Regions from separate parts of the Homo sapiens genome. Here region 2 is linked to region 1. Evidence: fine-mapped expression QTL. A gene starts in region 1. The other region holds a variant in brackets. All regions are shown on one strand. Distances are from middle to middle.

Region 1 (5,377 bases):
AGTGCCTGAAGGCTAATAGCAATAACAAGAAAAAGAAGAGAGAGAGAGGAAAAAGGAAAAGCTATTATTTCCACTCTCTTCCACAAAAGGCGTCCCTGGTCACTCTTGCATTTAGCCAATAAAAGCTATATTCAAAATTCTCAAGCACTTACAATTGCACACATGGCATATATAGTTATTCTTTCATGTTACATTGATAAGTGGACATGTAATCTCTAGAGCTAGGTAATAAGCTGGGGATAAGTGGGAACCTTTATCTCTTTCAAAGTGTCTACCAGTGTATATTTAAAAAAAACTTTTTAAAATAAGTAAGTCACAAATGCCCTGGATTATTTTACTCTACTTCCTAACATGTTTATCCAAAAGGTAAACATTATTGGGTTCAAAAAATGTGAAATTTGAAAACATTTTCTTACCTATCTATACTCATTTCAGACATGTCTTTCCTAAATGTCTGAAATATTTTAGGGAAACCTGTTGAATGAAACATTTAAAAATCAGCTATTCCCTCTAAATCAAAAGGTCAATTCTACCCCCCCCAGGAACACATGGCAATGTCTGGAGACTTTTTTTTTTTTTTTTTTTTTTTTGAGACGGAGTCTCGCTCTGTCGCCTAGGCTGGAGTGCAATGGCGCGATCTTGGCTCACTGCAAGCTCCACCTCCCGGGTTCACGCTATTCTCCTGCCTCAGCCTCCCAAGTAGCTGGGACTACAGGCGCACGCCGCCACGCCCGGCTAATTTTTTGTATTTTTAGTAGAGACGGGGTTTCACCATGTTAGCCAGAATGGTCTCGATCTCCCGACCTCGTGATCTGCCCGCCTAGGCCTCCCAAAGTGCTGGGATCACAGGCGTGAGCCACCGCGCCCGGCCTGGAGACATTTTTGATCATCGCAAGGATGTGTGCTTCTAGCACAGCCACGGGTAGAGGACAGGGATGCTGCCAAATATCCTGTAATTCACAGGACAGTCCCCAATCCTCCCCAACAAAGAATTATCCAGACCAAAATGTCAACACTAGAGCTTGAGAAGCCTACTCTAGAAGACTTCTCTGCTTCTTTTTTCAAGGAAGTGACTGGAGTGGCTTCAGCACAGGATGTTAAACACAAAAGAGAGTTGTTTTTTTTTTTTGCAGGACTGTTTCAGTAGTACAGCACCCTTAAGGCACTTCTCTGGAAATAATATGAGTGTGTGTGTGTGTGTGTGTGTGTGTCTGTGAGAGAGAGAGAGAGGGAGAGAGAAAGAGAGGGGGAGGGGAGAGGGAGGGGAGGAAGAGGGAGGGGAGGGGGAACAGAGAGAGAGAGAGAGAGAGATGTCACGGTGTGAATGCACGCAAAAATGTTATAAAAATGAGCACTCCCAGCAGCCTGGGCAACATAGTGAGACGCCAGATTAGCTGGGTGTGGTGGCGTGTGCCTGTAGTTCCAGTTACTCGAGAGGCTGCGGTGGGAGGCTTGAGCCCAGGAGGTCGAGGCTGCAGCCACTGCACTCCAGCCTGGGCGACAGAGCGAGACTCTTGTCTAAAAAAAAAAAAGCACTTCATACAGCCATGCCCAAGTTCAACTTTTATGGTGTTTCGCCTATATCCTAAATCGTGCCTCATCACAACAGCTCAGCCAAGGGTTCAGTGTCTCTGACAAGGGCGTGAGAGAGATTAGGTGTGTGGAATGGTGCATGCATTTAGAAATCAGGCACGACGCGCAGGTCGACGAAGGCACCACCCAGGAGTGGGTGGACCAGGTGCCCCCTGGAGACGAGAAACCCTCGAGGAAGGGGTGGGTCGGGGGCGGTACTTTTATGCGAGGAGGTGCTGGAGGGTGGGCTTGCGCTCGGCGTTTCAGTGCTGGTCGCGCTCTGGCTGGGCACGAACGTAGAGGTCAGGCTAGGGCTGACGATGCTGGCTAAGCGGGGGCGCACGTCTGGGAAGTCGTCGTCGTAGTCACCGATGTCCGTGACCTTCCAGAGGTACTCTTCGCTGAACGTCTCAGGGGCCTCCAACTCCTGCTCTTCCCCCACCAACTCCTCCTCCACCACCTCCTCCTCCTCCTCCTCCACCTCTTCCTCCTCCTCCTCCACCTCTTCCTCCTCCTCCTCCACCTCTTCCTCCTCCTCCTCCTCCTCTAACTCCTCCTCTGACTCCTTCTGGTCCTTCTTCCCCGGGTCTCCGAAGCCGCTAGGCGAGCGCAAGTGGGCCATGGCTGGCGGGAGGCGGGATTACAGCCAGCTCTTTGGCCGCGGCCCCGGTCGGCTCTCGCGAGCGCGAGCCTCTGTTGTGCGTTGGTCTCCCCGGGCAACTGCTTGCCCTGCGCCACCGAGCCTCCCGGATTTAAAGCGGCAGGAGCTGGTTAGCCGGATAGAATGTGGGTGCCGAGGGCCGGTGGGGGCCACCGCAGACTTCTTTCTGTCCCTGCTCTTCAGCGTCTCTGAAACCCCTGGCAGCCTGCGGAGAAACGATCTTTTCTTCGTCTCTCAGCTTATTTGGGGCCTTTTTTTTTTTTTTTAACTTGGGTGGAGGAAGTGGCTTCTAGCGACGGACACACACGGTGCCATTTGGTATTGCGGATGCTGGAGTCTGGTTATTGAGTAGACAGATGCTTGCTGGAACGTCCAGTGAAACTTTATTTACAAAATCAGGCGCCAGCCCTTGGGCCCTCGTTTGCGGATATTTTTAAAATAGCTTTAAATATTAATAAGCGTATTAAAATTGCCTTAAATGTTAGTTATCTTAAATATTGTTAGATTAATATTAATTAATCTTGATTGGCGACATTTTTAGCGTCCCATAAATTTTGCTCCTTGCTGTGATCTGGGTCCTGCTTCTTACTTGGCCCATCTATCCATCCTGGAGTAGAAAAGTCCTGAAGCATCTGGCCACCTAGGTACCACCTGCGTCCTTCTGGGACTTTGTATTTACTTACATTTTTGTAAAATATATACATTTTTTATTTTTGAGAGACAGGATGTCACTCTGTCACCCAGGCTGGAGTGCAGTGGCGGCATCATGGTTCACTTCAGCCCTGAACTCTTGGGCTCCAGTGATCCTCCCACCTCGGTCTCCCAAGTGGCAAGGACAACAAATGTGTGTCACCACGCCTGGCCAATTTTATATATTATATTATATTATATTATATTATATTATATTATATTATATTATATTATATTTATTTTGAGACGGAGTCTCGCTCTGTCACCCAGGCTGGAGTGCAGTGGCACCATATCGGCTCCCTGCAACCTCAGCCTCCTGGGTTCAAGCAATTCTCCTGCCTCAGCCTCCCGAGTAGCTGGGACTACAGGCACGTGCCACCACGCCTGGCTAATTTTTTGCATTTTCAGTAGAGATGGGGTTTCACCGTGTTAGCCAGGATGGTCTCGATCTCCTGACCTCGTGATCTGCCTGCCTCAGCCTCCCAAAGTGCTGGGATTACAGGCGTGAGCCACAGTGCCTGGCCTGTATTATATTTATTTTGAGACAGGGTCTTACCCTGTCGCTCAGGCTGGAGTGCAGTGGTGCTATCTCAGCTCACCGCAACCTCCTCCTCCCGGCTCAAGCTGATCCTCCCGCCTCAGCCTCCCGAGTATCTGGGACTACTTTTTGTAGAGATGGCGTCTTGCTATGTTGCCCAGGCTGGTCTCAAACTCTCGGTCTCAAGCTCCTGGGCTCAAGAGATCCTCCCATCTGGGCCTCCCAAAGTTCTTAGGATTACAGACGTGAGCTACTGTGCCTGGCTAGGGAATATTTTTGAAAGTAGAGTTCTTGCAGGCTAAAGGAGCAGGCAGCACAGATGAGAGGAGACATCTGAGTTGCTTTAAAAGGAAGGGCAAAATGTGGTGACCAGAGAGGAAAGTGAAAAGCTTTCCAGCAGGCTCACGGCAGGAAAGGAGGGTCAGGACAGGGAACTATGTGTACAGATATTGAGGTACAAATAAGGTAAGTGTAATTTAAAAAGAGAAAATAAGAAAAAGCTCATTTCTTTTCTGGACAATACTAACAGTTTGATGCTGGAAGCTATCTTAGAAGTTAGGAAATTCAACCAGGGTCCTCAGAGAGCAGACTGGAAGTCAGGATGTGGGGATGAGACACGGGGCTGGCAGACAGCAAGGGTGACAGTGCTTGTGCTTACTCCGCTTGTGCCTGCTGTAGCTCAGTTCTGTGACTGCCCTGGCATTTTCTCAATTGTGTGGTGAATTAATTTGTTTAAGTACTCCTTGTTTAGACCCTCTATTTAAGACCTTTTTTGAACATTTTATGGAATCTCCTTCCCTTGGATCTACTTACTACGGAAAGAACAGTCCCTTATTTTCTCATGAGTTGATGCCACTCTTGTTTTGGCCGTTCAGAGATAATATGATGCTGGGTCAGTTTATATTTTCCCCTTCTCCATTCCTGGTGTCTAGCTTGACTCAGGAACTTGAGATTTGAGAACCAGGCACCAGCCCTGACTAACTGTGACTTTGGGGTTACTGAGCCTCAGTTTCTTGGTGTGTTAAATGGAAATATCAGTACCTTTCCACTTAATTTATGGGGCTATTTTGAGATAAAATTTAATTATTGTTTATTTTCTTCTTCTTTTTTTTTTTTCCTAAGATGGCATCTCAATGTGTTACCCAGGCTGGTCTTGAACTCCTGGACTCAATCCTCCTACCTTGGCCTCCCAAAGTGCTGGGATTATAGGTGTGAGTCATCCTGTCTGGCCTATTTTCTGAGGACTGATTTTGTATTTTATTATTATTATTTTAGGACCACATAACTCTGTTTAGAAAATGTTTCTAATGTATTGAGTGCTTCAAAGGTATATTAGTTCGATTTCACACTGCTATAAGGAATTGCCTGAGGCTGAGTAATATATAAAATAAACAGGTTTAATTGACTCAGTTCCATATAACTGGGGAGGCCGCAGGAAACTTACAATCATGGCTGAAGGTGAAGGGGAAGCAAGGCACATCTTACTTGTTGGCAGGAGAGAGAGAGTGCAGGGGAAACTGCCACTTTTTCTTTTTTTTTTTTGGAGACAGAGTCTCACTCTGTTGCCCAGGCTGGAGTGCAGTGGCGCAATCTTGGCTCACTGCAAGCTTGGCCTCCCGGGTTCACGTCATTCTCCTGCCTCAGCATCCCGAGTAGCTGGGACTACAGGCGCCCGCCACTACGCCTGGCTAATTTTTTGTATTTTTAGTAGAGACGAGGTTTCACGTGTTAGTCAGGATGGTCTCGATCTTCTGCCCTCAGGTAATCCACCCGCCTTGGCCTCCCAAAGTGCTGGGATTACAGGTGTGAGCCACCATGCCCAGCCAGAAACTGCCACTTTTAAACCATCAGATCTCATTGAGAACTCCCTCACTATCACGAGAACCGCATGAGGGAAACCACCCCCATGATCTGAT
Region 2 (5,377 bases), 110 kb after region 1:
TTCCCTGCTTGAAGATGAGACTTAATTGTCTGAAGGGGGTGAGGCCTTGAAGGCTGGTTTTGCTCCCTTGGTGATTTGGGCAGACAACCAAGGAGTCATTTATACCTTTATAGCTGAGCCTCTGCAGACCCGACTGGCTACCCTTTCAGAAAATGGAGGTGGTACTCTAGTGCTTTTTGTCTTCCCCAGGAGAGCTTTCAGACTTTTGGTAAATTTGCTTACACTCACGACCCGTGAAGAAATGAACTCTTGGTTCATAGTGATTTTTATTTTACTTTATTTGGGAAGGAAAGCCCTCCCCTAACCTTCCAGCAAGGATTTGCATATATTATTTATTTTCCCTCAGCACAGATACGCAGACATTTTACAGGGGAGTATCCAAGCCTTACTTGGTATTCCTTAAGCAAAAGGATCACAATTGTACTGGTTTCCCCCATTCCTGAAAGAAGGAAGATCATGTCATGGAAAGGGCTGGTCAGTCCAACTCCAGGTGGAGATTTTCTGGAGGATCCCCCCAGCAGCATCTGCTCCCAGTGTTCTGTTCAATACTCTTGGGTCTTCCAAAGGATGTCAACAAATGGGCAAAGTCCTGAGGATTTTCCTGATACACTCGCGTGGAAAAACCAGACTAAGATAGATCAGGTTTCATCCTGAGAAGAGCTTTAGTGAATTTATACCGTTCATGGGGCACCGTTCTGTAATAGCTTAATCCTATGTGGAAAATGATACTCTTGGTCTTATGACCAAGGACTTTTTTTTTCATAGCAACTTAGGTTATTATAGATTTATAATGACAAAAGCAATAATATGCTTTCCTTCCTACACAGAGACAAGGCAGCGAGCCCCCATCAGACAGTTGTGAATTGTCATTATCAGGTAGATAATCTGTTTACACTACTTGGTCTACCCCATTTTCACCTCTAGATTTCACGAAACGTATTTAGGGGGTGCAATGTGTGGAATGTTTTTGTGCAAAGTTACTGTGGTCCATTTGGAGAGAGGGCCTGACTCTTTTGATCCATGTGCTACTCTGCTGCCAGATTGAGCACTCTAAGGGAGAAATCTATCTGACTCATGTCAGCCTCCTGCTTAAATTTTTTTTTGGAGTTTCCCTTAGGCTTTAGGATGAAATCCCAAAATCTTTGATTTGCTCATAGACTATCCCTTCCAGCCTACTTACTCTCTGATAACTCTTCAGATTGCCCTCTGGGTTCTAGTCATACCTACTTTTTTTTTTTTAAGTTAACATTTATTGAGCATGTTTGGTACCATTTGATAACATTGAGCATTCACCCTTTCCCTTTAAGAACCCAGCTTGGTATTTGCACTGCTAGCTTCTTCTCACATACAGTTGGGCCAGGACTGAGTTATGTAGCTACATCTGGCTGCACAGGAGCCTGGGAAATGTATTCTGGGAGGCTGTGTGTCCAGATGAAAACTTTTAATACTACTGTAGTAATATAGAAGAAGGGAAATGAATATTTGGGCGTAATTTTCATTCTTTCACAGTGAATGAGAATTTTAAAATCACTATAGAGTCTATTTTATATTTATACTGGGTTAAGTAAAATCAACATATGGAGTGTTAAATATTTAGTTTATTAAATAGTGATTTATTTTACAGACTCTAAAATCTTTACATTAAGAAGTATCCAGGCTGGCCAACACAGTGAAACCCCGTCTCTACTAAAAATACAAAAATTAGCCCGGCATAGTGGTGCGTGCCTGTAATCCCAGCTACTCAGGAGGCTGAGGCAGGAGAATCGCTTGATCCTGGGAGGTGGAGGTTGCAGTGAGCTGAGATTGCGCCATTGTACTCCAGCCTGAGTGGCAGAGTGAGACTCCATCTCAAAAAAAAAAAAAAAATGTGGATGGAATAATCTGTCATTGTATGTATTATTGAATCAGTTTGGTGGAACAATAGGAGAATGGTTTGTCAGAGAAGGGTTTCTGGAAGAGGAGGCATCTGACCTGATTTTTGAAGCATGTGTAGGAATAAGTCGGCAAAGATGAGCAAAGGCATGTCAGAGCATTTTAATTTCTTCAACTAAAGAAAGAAAGGAGCAGAATTTCAGTCAGGGGTTCTTCTACTGTGCAGAAATTCCTGTGGAGTAGGACAACAAAAAGATGAAAGGACTGAGGGAAGAGCTCTGGTGTCAGGATGGTTCTGCAGTGTTCAGTGGGCAAATGGACAGGATGACTCCAATGAGGTCTAACCCCTCTGGAGTCTGCACTACCCAGCATGCCCTGGATTTGGATGCCATCTTGATTTCATAAAACCTAAGCTTTTTCTCTCCAATGGACACATCTCCTATTTTATAGTGAATATGAGAAAGGAGGAGTTGTTTTGCAGCAACTTTTCTGATACTCATCTATTCTGTGATACAAGGGAAATCTGTTTAGACTTTATGGGGAATTCTTGATTTTAATTTCAAGATTCTTCTACAGATGCATATGATCTATTAGTGTATAAGTTTATTTTAAATCAAAATGGAAAATAAAAAATGCTTTTTGAAAATAGTCTAATTGTTTTCAAATAATGTTAAGCTCAATTGATTTTTCCTGTCAAGTTCTTGTCTATTGAATGACTCCTTTTATAACTGTCGGAAAAAATGCAATGTGCTGAAGGAAAGAAAGAATTTCATAATTATATAGGTCATAAAATAAAATTTTCCATTCCCAAGAGACTCCTGGATGAGCATATTTACATCTAGAAATCAAAGGTCAGAAAGTTTCATTAAATATATTCCTAAATATTTTTAAATTATAACAAAGGGAATTTGGTTAGAATTCTTCTGTCCTGCAGTATCTGACAGGTAGAGAGTATGGGTAGGGAAAACCCTGTGCTGTTCACTGCGTTAAAATGCCTTATGAATTTTAACTTCTCTTTCTAGAGAGTGCAAAATAAGTGGGTGGAGGTGAGGGAGGGGAGCAGTATGTACAATCTTGAGATGGAAAACCAGTTGAGCCCAGTTAGAAAGCTGTCGTCTTATAAACAGTTGTAGCAAACATATGCTCTGTATTTTCATGGTCAGTTTTTATTTCACAGTATGTTTTTCAATAAAGATCACACATGTGGGCTGGGCACAGTGGCTCACACCTGTAATCCTAGCACTTTGGGAGGCCGAGGCGGACAGATCACCTGAGGTCAGGAGTTCGAGATCAGCCTGGCCAGCATGGTGAAATCCCGTCCCTACTAAAAATACAAAAATTAGCTGGATGTGGTAGTGCGTACCTGTAGTAGTCCCAGCTACTTGGGAGGCTGAGGAAGGAGAATTGTTTGAGCCCAGGAGGC[G/A]GAGATTGCAGTGAGCCGATATTGTGCCACTGTACTCCAGCCTGGGCAACAAAGCCAGGCTCTGTCTCAAAAACAAACAAACAAACAAAAAACAACACACATGCAGGTTTGTTCTTAACCTTCCACTCCATGGTACACTCCAGGATTATGACACTCCCACCAGTCACATAGCTCGCTGTGGTGGTAAAACTGGATTTGGGGCTATAGAGAGGTAGCTGACTCAAGTCTGGCTGTTTACCACTCAGAAGTCAAAGCACAAGAAGCGAGGTGTGGTGAAAAGAAAGCAGCTTTTATTCAAATGCTAGCAGACGGGAGAATGATTGGGTACCAGCCTCAAAGGAATCATCTCTGCTGTTTGGACTGAATGAAGGAAAACTTGGTATGAGAAACATGGATGAGTGATGCAGGAGGGTACAGGTCTGTGTGCCTTTTCCTGATGGTCATCTTGAGGAATTGCCCATCTGGAGGTCTGGTTGGCTCATCTTGACTTTGGCCTGGTGGTGGTGAATTCATTGTTCATAACTCCCCTAAGCGGGAGGATTCTGCAGTCAAGTCTCTGTCTGATTTGCTTTAAAATTAGCCCCTAGAATTTCTAAGCAAGCACATAATTAGATAAGCAAGCACTGTACACAGGAGTGCCTGGTGGGAAAGGAGGGAAGCGAAGAGTTTTAAAGTACATTTCAAGGCTGTACTTCGAGATTAGGAAGGAAAGGGAAAAAACCTTAACATGTAATTTGAGGCTTAGATACTTGGTTACAGCTCCCCACTGTGAAATTATATTCCGTTTTTATGGAAAGTGGGAGATGTCAATTTGACTACTTCCTACTGAAAAGGGGGCACAGCTAGGGGGCAACAGAAGAAAACCTGTCCACTTGTAATTGAAAACTTTTCTGAGTCTCTGACCTTGAAAAATTTTTGAAAACTTCTGAAAAATACAGAAGATATTTATTGGAGTGTGAGTGGTGAGTGTGTAATAGCAATAGAGTCCACAGTAGAAGAATAAACTTATTTTTAAAATCATGGCTGAAATTATGAGCAACTTCTTTTACTAGGAGGGGCCTGATCTGAATTATGAGGAGAACCCTTGATTTAAGGACATGACAGGATTAGACATAGCACTAGTTTGCTTGTGCACGTCTTGTAGGGCTGAGGGTGTATTTCCAGAGTTGTGCAGGAAGTATACACAGCATTTAGTCTTAATTACGGTGGACAGTTCCCATTGTCAGTTGTACCTGGAGTTCCTGTGGGGATATGACAACAGGTTGGCTAAATATACATATTTAACAGGTTATAGGAGGGGCTATGAATATTCATAAAGTTGGTCTTGACACATGTGTATTAAATATGTATGTAACATATGACCCATGTTTATTTTGGGATGGAGACTTAAAATATAAATGTACTATAATTAGACCCTGTATGTACAAAAATACACGTTGAGTGTGCAATTTCTGTATACCAGCCAACATTTGTCCATGGTCAGTGACCTTTTTATCAGGAGAAATGTACTGAAATCAGACTCTTGTCTAATTAAAGCTGTAGTTATGCCTGGTGAACAGGGAGTAGGGGTCAGTCAGCTTATCTTGAATCCAGTACTCATTTGGCTGCTCGTGAAAAAGAAACACCTTGTGGCAGCTAGAACATAACTTTTGAAGTGTAGGAGTGCGCGACTTCACTGTTGCCTGGCATGGTCCTGGGTCCTGTTTATAATTTGGTATCTTATTGTTACAAAGAGTCTGTTTTGTCAGTTTTATGATCTATATTTTAACGTTAATGTTGGTCAGTTGCATCTGAATTCCAAAGTGGGGAGGGTATAATGAGGTGTGTCCAGCCCCCTGCTTTCTGTAAAAACCTAAATTAGTTTTTCAGGTTTTTGGGGGGGATCTCCTTTGGCCAAGAAGGGGTTCCATTTAGTATGTTGGAGGGCTTAGAACTTCTTGTTTGTTTGTATTTCCCCTTTTATTTGGTCAAGATATGCCAGAGGCAGTATAGATGGCCAGTCTTTTATTTTGTCCCATATTGATGCCAGGGTGGTCATCATGGCATCATCAGCAGGGTGGACCTGCTGTTCATCATGTCCCT

What was found. PIP is the estimated chance that this variant, and not a neighbour inherited with it, causes the effect. A credible set is the group of variants that fine-mapping cannot tell apart.
Region 2: its variant is the best candidate, but not a certain one, in a credible set for the expression of ERICH6 in testis (GTEx, PIP 0.70).

Annotation. Positions count from the first base shown.
Region 1 is chr3:150,701,705-150,707,081 of GRCh38, forward strand. ERICH6 (glutamate rich 6) reads right to left here and starts at 2,216. Exons shown (of 14, transcript NM_152394.5): 1 at 1,792-2,216; 2 at 417-474. The coding sequence starts at 2,194. ERICH6-AS1 (ERICH6 antisense RNA 1) reads left to right here and starts at 1,860. Exons shown (of 3, transcript NR_121675.1): 1 at 1,860-1,963. RefSeq lists enhancers at 2,092-2,171, 2,322-2,411.
Region 2 is chr3:150,808,709-150,814,085 of GRCh38, forward strand. No RefSeq gene overlaps it. Among named protein-coding and RNA genes, the nearest start is that of SIAH2, 48 kb to the left of the region's middle. The variant G/A (reference allele first, on the strand shown) is at 3,296.